Linked DNA regions of Homo sapiens: regions 1 and 2 are each linked to region 3. Evidence: fine-mapped expression QTL. A gene starts in region 3. Each other region holds a variant in brackets. All regions are shown on one strand. Distances are from middle to middle. Region 1 overlaps BAALC (BAALC binder of MAP3K1 and KLF4). Region 2 has its middle 40 kb from the start of LINC01181. Region 3 holds the start of BAALC (BAALC binder of MAP3K1 and KLF4).

The links. PIP is the estimated chance that this variant, and not a neighbour inherited with it, causes the effect.
Region 1: its variant is fine-mapped to the expression of BAALC in cerebellum (GTEx, PIP above 0.99).
Region 2: its variant is fine-mapped to the expression of BAALC in monocytes after Pam3CSK4 (Quach 2016, PIP 0.95). The same link has a PIP of 0.9 or more in monocytes.

Annotation. Positions count from the first base shown.
Region 1 is chr8:103,177,514-103,180,276 of GRCh38, forward strand. The region is part of intron 1 of BAALC (BAALC binder of MAP3K1 and KLF4); the gene reads left to right. Among named protein-coding and RNA genes, the nearest start is that of BAALC-AS1, 6.8 kb to the left of the region's middle. The variant T/C (reference allele first, on the strand shown) is at 1,336.
Region 2 is chr8:103,079,652-103,082,414 of GRCh38, forward strand. No RefSeq gene overlaps it. Among named protein-coding and RNA genes, the nearest start is that of LINC01181, 40 kb to the right of the region's middle. The variant G/A (reference allele first, on the strand shown) is at 1,290.
Region 3 is chr8:103,139,303-103,142,065 of GRCh38, forward strand. BAALC (BAALC binder of MAP3K1 and KLF4) reads left to right here and starts at 1,423. Exons shown (of 3, transcript NM_024812.3): 1 at 1,423-1,755. The coding sequence starts at 1,596. LINC01181 (long intergenic non-protein coding RNA 1181) reads left to right here. Exons shown (of 6, transcript NR_145429.1): 5 at 1-66; 6 at 571-1,053. It overlaps BAALC-AS2 (BAALC antisense RNA 2), which reads right to left and starts at 2,040. Exons shown (of 2, transcript NR_027071.1): 1 at 1,952-2,040. RefSeq lists a silencer at 1,459-1,648.

The DNA of each region.
Region 1 (2,763 bases), 38 kb after region 3:
CCATGCAAAATTCCCCACCGTCTTGGCAGTCTGTGTTCCCCTAGGACCGCAGTTTCTGGTTTTTACTCTGAGTACAGCATTTCCATTTCTCACAAAATTCCAGTTTCTCACAGTAAATAGGGCAAGGTGGTGCTTGGAATCACAGAGACTAGAGTTCTAATTGTTGCTTTACCTCTTACTAGGCTGAGACCTTGGGAAAATTACTTGAACTTTCTCAGTCCTAGTTTTCTTATCTGTTGTGTTAGGGTAACAAGAGTTCTTACCTCATAGGATTGATGTGGACATTAAATAAAATAATATACCGTAAAATTTATTGTAATTTATATGTGCCATGCACTATTCTAAGAGCTTTGTGTATATTAACTAGTTGAATCCTCCACAAATTCCTTAAAATCAGAGCTATTATTTTAGAGAAGAAGGAACTAAATCACATAGAAGTTAGGCTGCTTGCTCAAGATCACTGTGTGTTCCTAGCATGTAGAGTGATGGTTTTCATTAATATAATCTCTGGTGGGGAAATTAGGAACCATCTGGTCTTGTCATTGGAGCTCAGCTATCAAGTTGCTACTTAATAGGTAGTTTCATTAAAAAGCAGAGGACTATATCAAAGTATATTTCTCAAAATGTTAAAAACTTAATTATCATACAAATAAATAGTGAGCAGGTATCACTATCTTTTTAACTCATTGATGAGGGTCACAGCTGGATGATAAAGTCAGCTCAAAAGAGAATATGAGAATGTGATTAACAGAAGGGCGACATGAAGAATCCTTGTGGTGATGGAGCTGTTCTGTATCTTGGTTGCAGTGGTGGATAAGTAAAAGTGCACATGTAATAAAATCATATAGGATTAAGTACAAATATACAAATGAGTACAAATTAAACCTGGGGAAATCTAAATAGGACGGGTGGATTGTACCAATGTCAGTACCCTGGATAGGATCTTGTACTACAATTCTGTAAGATGTTACCATTGGGGGAAATTAGAAAAGAGCACACAGATCACTCTGTACGATTTCTTACAACAATCTATAGATGATTTTGAAATAAAAAGTTTAATTTAGGCTGGGCACAGTGACTCACGCCTGTAATCCCAGCACTTTGGGAGGCTGAGGTGGGCGGATCACAAGGTCAGAAGTTCAAGACCAGCCTGGCCAACATGGTGAAACCCTGTCTCTACTAAAAATACAAAAATTAGCTGGGTATGGTGGCGTGTGCCTGTAATCCCAGCTACTCAGGAGGCTGAGGCAAGAGAATTGCTTGAACTGGGACCCAGGAGGCAGAGGTTGCAGTGAGCCAAGATTGCACCACTGCACTCCAGCCTGGGATACAGAG[T/C]GAGACTCTGTCTCAAAAAAAAAAAAAAAGTTAATTTAAAAACAAAATAAATAAATGGCTCAGAACAAAAGGGAATATGAGAAACTTTTAAAAATAGTTGGTGGAAAGAAGGAAAGCTGAGATAAGATTGCTAAATTAAATACAAAACTAGTTACATCCTAAAGGACAAAACAAAAACAAAAAAATTCCACAAAACCCAAACCCATAGTCTTTGGGGTTCTCTTCTCTATCAGACAGAAAAGAAACTCATCATGCATGATCAGTTCTCAGAATTGTAAACTGTTTGGCCCTAATCAAATGTGCAAACCAAGTTGCACGCTCTAGGCCAGGATCTCTCAATGCCTCCAGCACTATGGAAATTTTGGGCCCAAATAATTCTTTGTTGGGGGTGCTGTCGTGGGCACTGTAGGATGTTTAGTAGCATGTGTGGCCTCTACAGCTGAAACATCTCCACATGTCCACTGGGGGTAAAGTCATGCTGGGTAGGAGCCCCAGAACACCTTTAGGTGAGCTTGTTGGGAAGTGCTCCTAGCATAACGTTAATCATCTTTTCTGCATTATCCCAATCTCTGGATAATTGTTCTTCACAAATAAAACTACCATTTGGAGGGTCACTGTGCTGAATAGAAGCACAATGTGCTCTATGCGGAGTCACAGACTTTTAGCAGAACAGGATCCTTAGAGATTTTCTAGGCCTGCTTCACCCTCCTTGTTTCCCAGCTGAGGAATACCAGTGGAGATGGCTCGGCTAAAGTCACATAGCTAGTTCATGTGGGTGTGTCCAATTCAATCCTGTCTTCTTCCAAATGGATGTGAAGCAGTCACTATGAAGTCTTTAAAACTTTGTGGGTACCAATTATGTGCCAGGCCCTGCGCTGGGCTCACAGCCAGGTGATGGCTAACACGAGGTCCTGCTCTTGAGGCACTGATGGTCTTCCTGGGGAGATAAGGATGTAGGCAAATAATTACTGTGGGAGGGATATTCAGTAGTGCAGGCTGAGGATGAAGGCTGTGATGGCCTTAGAGTCTCAGGGATAAGCCCTAAGGGAGTCTGATGAGGACCAGAGTTCCCAGCTCCATGATCAAAGAGAGGTGGTTGTACTCATTGCAGAGGGAAGTTGTTGTTCCTGGCGCAGAGGGAATGTGAGGCCCAAAAGTGAATCTGCCCACAGTGCAGGCCTGGGCCAGGTTCTGGGATTACTGGGAGGCCCAGAAGACAATGATAAGCAGGGGGAGTGCAGAAATGGGGAGCTGTGAAGAACAAGTGGAAGAAAGGAGCAGATTTATAGCCAAGAGATCAGGCCAAAGATAGGACAGGGTGGGCGAGTGGGAGGAATGCAATTCTGAGATGGAGAAATTAAGACAACTAGAGTTCCAGGAAGAAGAGAACAACTGGGTAAAATCACAGCAGTGTTGAGAGCATGGTGG
Region 2 (2,763 bases), 60 kb before region 3:
CTATTTCAAATTCTTTCTGAGGTTGAGGGCAATAAATGATAAAATCACGCAGTCAGGCAGTGTGTTAGTTCTCTAAAGACAAGAGTTCAGAGTTCTGAGTTCTCCAAAGACAAGAACTAGTATATGAAGAGGTTTATTATAAGAAACTGGCTCACATGATTACAGAGGCTGGCAACTCCAAAATCTGCTGAGTAGATGTCCTGGTTTGAGTCTGAAAGCTGGAAGCTGCTGTAGAACCCAGAAGAGCTGATGTCCCAGTGCAAAGGCATCAGGCAGGAGAGTTCAGTCTTACCAGGGTCAGTCTTTTATTCTATTCAGCCCTTCAACTGATTGGGTGAGGCCCACCCACATTATGTCTGCTTTACTCAAGACAACTACTAATTTAAATGTTAATTTCATGTAAAACACTGATATGGCTGGGCTGTGACCCCACCCAAATCTCATCTTGAATTGTAGCTTCCATAATTCCTTCGTGCTGTGGGAGGGACTCAGTGGGAGATAATTGAATCATGGAGGTGGTTTCCACCATACTGTTCTCATGGTAGTGAATAAGTCTCACAAGGTCTGATGGCTTTATAAGGGGAAACCCCTTTCACTTGGCTCTCATTCTTCTTGTCTGCTGCCATATGAGATGTACCTTTCACCCTCCACCATGATTGTGAGGCCTCTCCAGCCACATGGAACTGTGAGTTCATTAAATCTCTTTCTTTTGTAAATTGCTTAGTCTTGGGTATGTCTTTATCAGCAGCCTGAAAACGGACTAACACACCCTCACAAAAACACCCAGAATAATGTTTGACTGACCATCTGGGCACCTTGAGGCCCTGTCAACTTGATGCATAAAATGAACATCTCAGGCAGCTCTTGCTTTCTCAGTTACAACAGGCCCCGATCCTGGCCTTTGGGTTATTTGTTGTTTGATATATACAGAAATTAAACCCAAATTTAAAAAAAAAGGGACTGAAATCTCAATTCCTAACCATGGCATTATTTTTACATTTATACCATTCTGATGCCTGTTTACCACATTTTGTGTGCATTCTTTTTACTGGTCTCTGGTCATCTGTCTCCCATTCTTCACAAGAATTGTTCCAAATCTTCTCCCCTTTTCACAGGGTCCCTTTCCAAAACTCCAGCTCTTTTGTGCTTTGCTTAAGATCTGGCCTCTTCCCAGATAGGAGAGGTTGTTTACCTTGCTAAGGTCACACAGCTACTGTATGGTAAGACTGGGATTTAATTTGAAGCAGTTGGTCTTGGTAGTCATGGGAGCCCACTGGGTGCTGGGTGCT[G/A]GGCACTGTGCCACGTGCTAAATGCCCCAGACTTCCCCATGCTGGGTCCTCCTCGTGCTGGGAGGGTGTGTACTCTTCCAGCCAGCATGCCCTGCCCCTTCTGCATGCCACACTCTGCTCTGATCTTCAGCCCAGCACCCGTCCCTCTGCACACAGGCCTTTGGCGCTTTGTTTGCTCCTATGATTTTCTGCTATTTTCTGTTTAATTCTCTCCTTTTTATTTGCATTATATAAACAGTTCTGTTTCTTTCATTAAGAAAACACCTCTCACAGGCACAGTGGCTCACATCTATAATCTTAGCACTTTGGGAGGCTGAGGTGGGAGGATTGCTTGAGCCCAGGAGTTCAAGACCAGTCTGAGTAACATAGTGAGACCCCATCTCTATTAAAAAAAAAAATTAGCCAGGCGTAGTGGTGCACACCTGTAGTCTCAGCTACTCAAGAGGCTGAGACAGGAGGATGGTTTGAGCCCAGGAGGTTGAGGCTGCAGTGAGCCAGGATCACATCACTGCACTCCAGCCTGGGTGACAGAACCAGACCCTGTCTCAAAAAAAAAAAAAAAGACAGCCCTTTTCTCTGACCCCTATGTCCCTCTCATTTGAGGAACTATCTATCTTTTCATTTTCCTCCACATTCTTTATTCTTTTTAACCTCCAAAGAGGCCCTCCACCTGCATTACGTGCCTTGCCCCATTAATAATGTACTAGTGCTATGTATGCTTGATTTTACATAAATGTTTTATTGTGCATTAAGGTCCATTCCCCATGCATATGCGCACATAAATTGCACTAATTAGAGTGCACAGCATGTTATATTGCAAGATTACATAAAATAGATTCAACACTTGGATATTGTCCAGTACATTAATTCCTTTCTTTTACATAGGACATAATATCATTGATTGTGCATGGCACATTAAGTCACATCAAGTCACATCAATCCTTAACAACATGCTTATCACTTCCAATAGGATTTCTTTACCACCAAGCTTTGAGAAACCAGCAACCTACTCAGGAAATGTCCTTCTTGCTTTGGGCCCATAAAACCTAGGGGCTTCTAGACTTGAAACTATACCTAGCATCTGGTTCTTACTTCAGGGCCATAGATTTGAAACCACTCATTTGTTCCCCCTAAATAAGACATCTCAGTGACTAATGACTAACTAGCACAAGATGACATGGAACTGTGGGGTCATGCATTTGGTATTTTTTAATTTTGGAGGGTGCTGTGATCCAACATGGCTGTCAATGCCTTGACACAGTCAGCTAGATCGTAGCTGCGCTTAAATGGAATATTCTTTACTCACATAAAATCATTTGGTGCTAATTGATTCATCTCAATGGACGTAATAAAAACAAGATATAGACACAGACACATACAAGCAGTTCTTCCTGCCATGTATGATTAACTTTGTAAACCCCTCTACCCTCCTTAAGCTCTTATAGTATCTGAGTAAGTCTTTTATTCTTGCCAA
Region 3 (2,763 bases):
ATGAGGAGGAGGAGACCCTGGCCACAGTTCCATGAATCTTTGCTCCCTTCCACATTATGGATTCTGGTGAGTGCCTGCCAGAGGAATGTCTGACAGCTCTACCCTCAACTGGATCATCTTTAGCCCAAATTACAATAATTTAAGTGAATCAAATTACTATAAAAAGATACTTCATTATTAATTCACTGGACATTTACTGAGGGCCTACTCTGTGCCAGGCAATGCTCTGAACTTGCCCTACCTATTGGATGCTACGTGCTAAATGTTATAGACAATGTACTCTCGTACATTCTATAAATTATATAGGATATAATGAGTACTATATTCTCTATGCTTTACATGCTATATTAAACATCACACCCTATAGTCTACATACAATGGATAATATACAAAATATATTATATATGTATTATGTCTACTAGAACAGTCTTTTGCCACAATAGGAATTTAGTAAATATACATTGAATGAATGAATGAATGAATATGATACTTAATACCATATTCTAGCAGAGCTTGGTCATTGAAGAGTTATTCTTCCAAACCCTTCCCTTTCCTACCCCCCTCTTGAAGGCTAAGAAGATTTTCATCTTTCACCACCTGTTCTGGATTCTTGGAACAGGTAAATTCATTGGCCTACGCAAGTCTGAGCTCTAGGTCTGAACCCGCATGGACCTGAGGGTGCACCGAGAAAAGAAAGGCTGACAACTGGATCCCGGGAATGTCAAGGCCACCCTGGGCTTGAAGGGACCGGCCATGCCTCCAAGCCTTGCCCAGAGAGGGGGTTCAGGATGCTGCGTGGTTCCAGGTGATCTATTGCTTTCTCGAGTTTAAAGTTCAGAGGATCATGAAGTACCACAGCTGGAAGGGGTGTAAGTGACACTGCCTAGCCTAACTCTCTTAAAAATCATAGCCCTACTCCTGCCTCCCCAAATCAGATACGACAGGCATAGGCTCTGACTGTTCCTTAAGTCTTAGTGGCAATACTCCCTGACCAGTTTTGCGGGGTTGCTCCCAGTTCCATTGCTTTTGTAACAGGTGGCCAGAAAGCCTGGGGTCCCGTGATAAGAGTTTCAGTTCTTTCCAGGATGGATGGAAAGAAGGAAGGAAGGATGGATGGATGGATGAATGAATGAGCGGGTGAGCGGATGGATGGATGGATGGATGGATGGATGGATAGATGGGCCAGAGACTGGGAACGGTAATGCCGGCCAGACGGGTCCGAGCGCCTCGGGAGCCCCAGCCCTCCTCCGGCTGCGGGGCCGCTGCTCCTGCTCCCGGGCCGTCACGGAGCCCTGAGGGAGGGGGCGGGCGAGCGGGGGCCTTGGGGCGGCCAGGGCGCTGGGAGGGAGGACTGGGCGGTGGGGACCGGAGGGGAGGGAGGGCCTTGGAGGCGGAGAGGAGGGACGGGCTGGGAGAGGGCCCGGACTAGGGGCGGCGGGCACCGCAGGAGCTCCGCGCGGCTGCAGCGCGGGCGGGAGCGGGGACGCGATGTCGCCGCCGCCGCCTCCTTGCGGGCCGGGGCTGCGCCTCCGGGGCTGAGCCGCCGCCAGAGCCGACAGCCGAGCAGCCGCTGGGCGCTCCCGCGGCGCAGGAGGATGGGCTGCGGCGGGAGCCGGGCGGATGCCATCGAGCCCCGCTACTACGAGAGCTGGACCCGGGAGACAGAATCCACCTGGCTCACCTACACCGACTCGGACGCGCCGCCCAGCGCCGCCGCCCCGGACAGCGGCCCCGAAGCGGGCGGCCTGCACTCGGGTAAGTGGCCGGGCCCCTGCAGACCCTCGCCCGCCCGCTACCCCGGGCGCCTTGGCCCGGGCACTGAGAGAGGAGCCGGTTCCCTGAGGAATTGATGGCGCGGCGGGGGTGGCTGGGAGGAAGCAGAGGCAGGACCTGCCCACTGATCAGTGGACAGATGCAAGCCCAGGGAGTGGGGTCGACCAGAGCCCCTTACCGAAGGCTGCGCCGATGCCCCAGCTTCCAGCAGCCCAATGCTCTTTGGCCTTGTCCAAAGCTTGCTCGCTGGTCGGGAGACCGGTGGGTGGGAGGACAGCCCACCTCCTCCGCACACATATCCCTCAGCCACCCACCCCCTGATCCGCCCAGGGCCGCCTCCGCCCCGCTTTGGCCCATCTGCCATCCCCTGGCCACCTGCGTACCCAGCCGGGTGACTTCTCATCCATTGGCCACCTGGTGCCCCTCTCTCCCTGGATTTATACACAAGGCGCCTGCCTGGGATCGCCTGGGTGGAGTCTTTCTTGTCGCTTCCCCTTTTCTCCCTCTAGGAAATGAGCCCACTCGCGGGCTTCAAAGACCAGAATCCCAGTTTAGGTCAAAATAAATGCACCCCGCCCCATCGCTAGTTCTGCACTTTAGGTTACTTTTGGAGCAGTTGTTCCATAGCAAAGGACTTCTCTCCCTACCCTATGGTGTCCCAATGCTTTGCAGGAGGCAGGGCACACATGTGGATTTTGACTATAAATTAAATACTCTTGCCTAGGTCATTCCTCATCCAGCAGAAATCTGATAAAAGGAGATGCAAAGAATTGTCTGGTCAGGTCATAAGTCAGGATTTTATTTTATTTTATTTTTTTATTTTTTAGCAGAACAAGTAATTATAGCGCAGAGATGCAAACTGTTGCCACAGACTGACCTTTAATCATAAACATATTGGTGACATTAAAAGGAAAAAATCTCACTACTTATTACATGGATGTTGTCCAAAGCAAGGTCAATATTTGGATAAAAATGTTTTAAGTGTTTCTT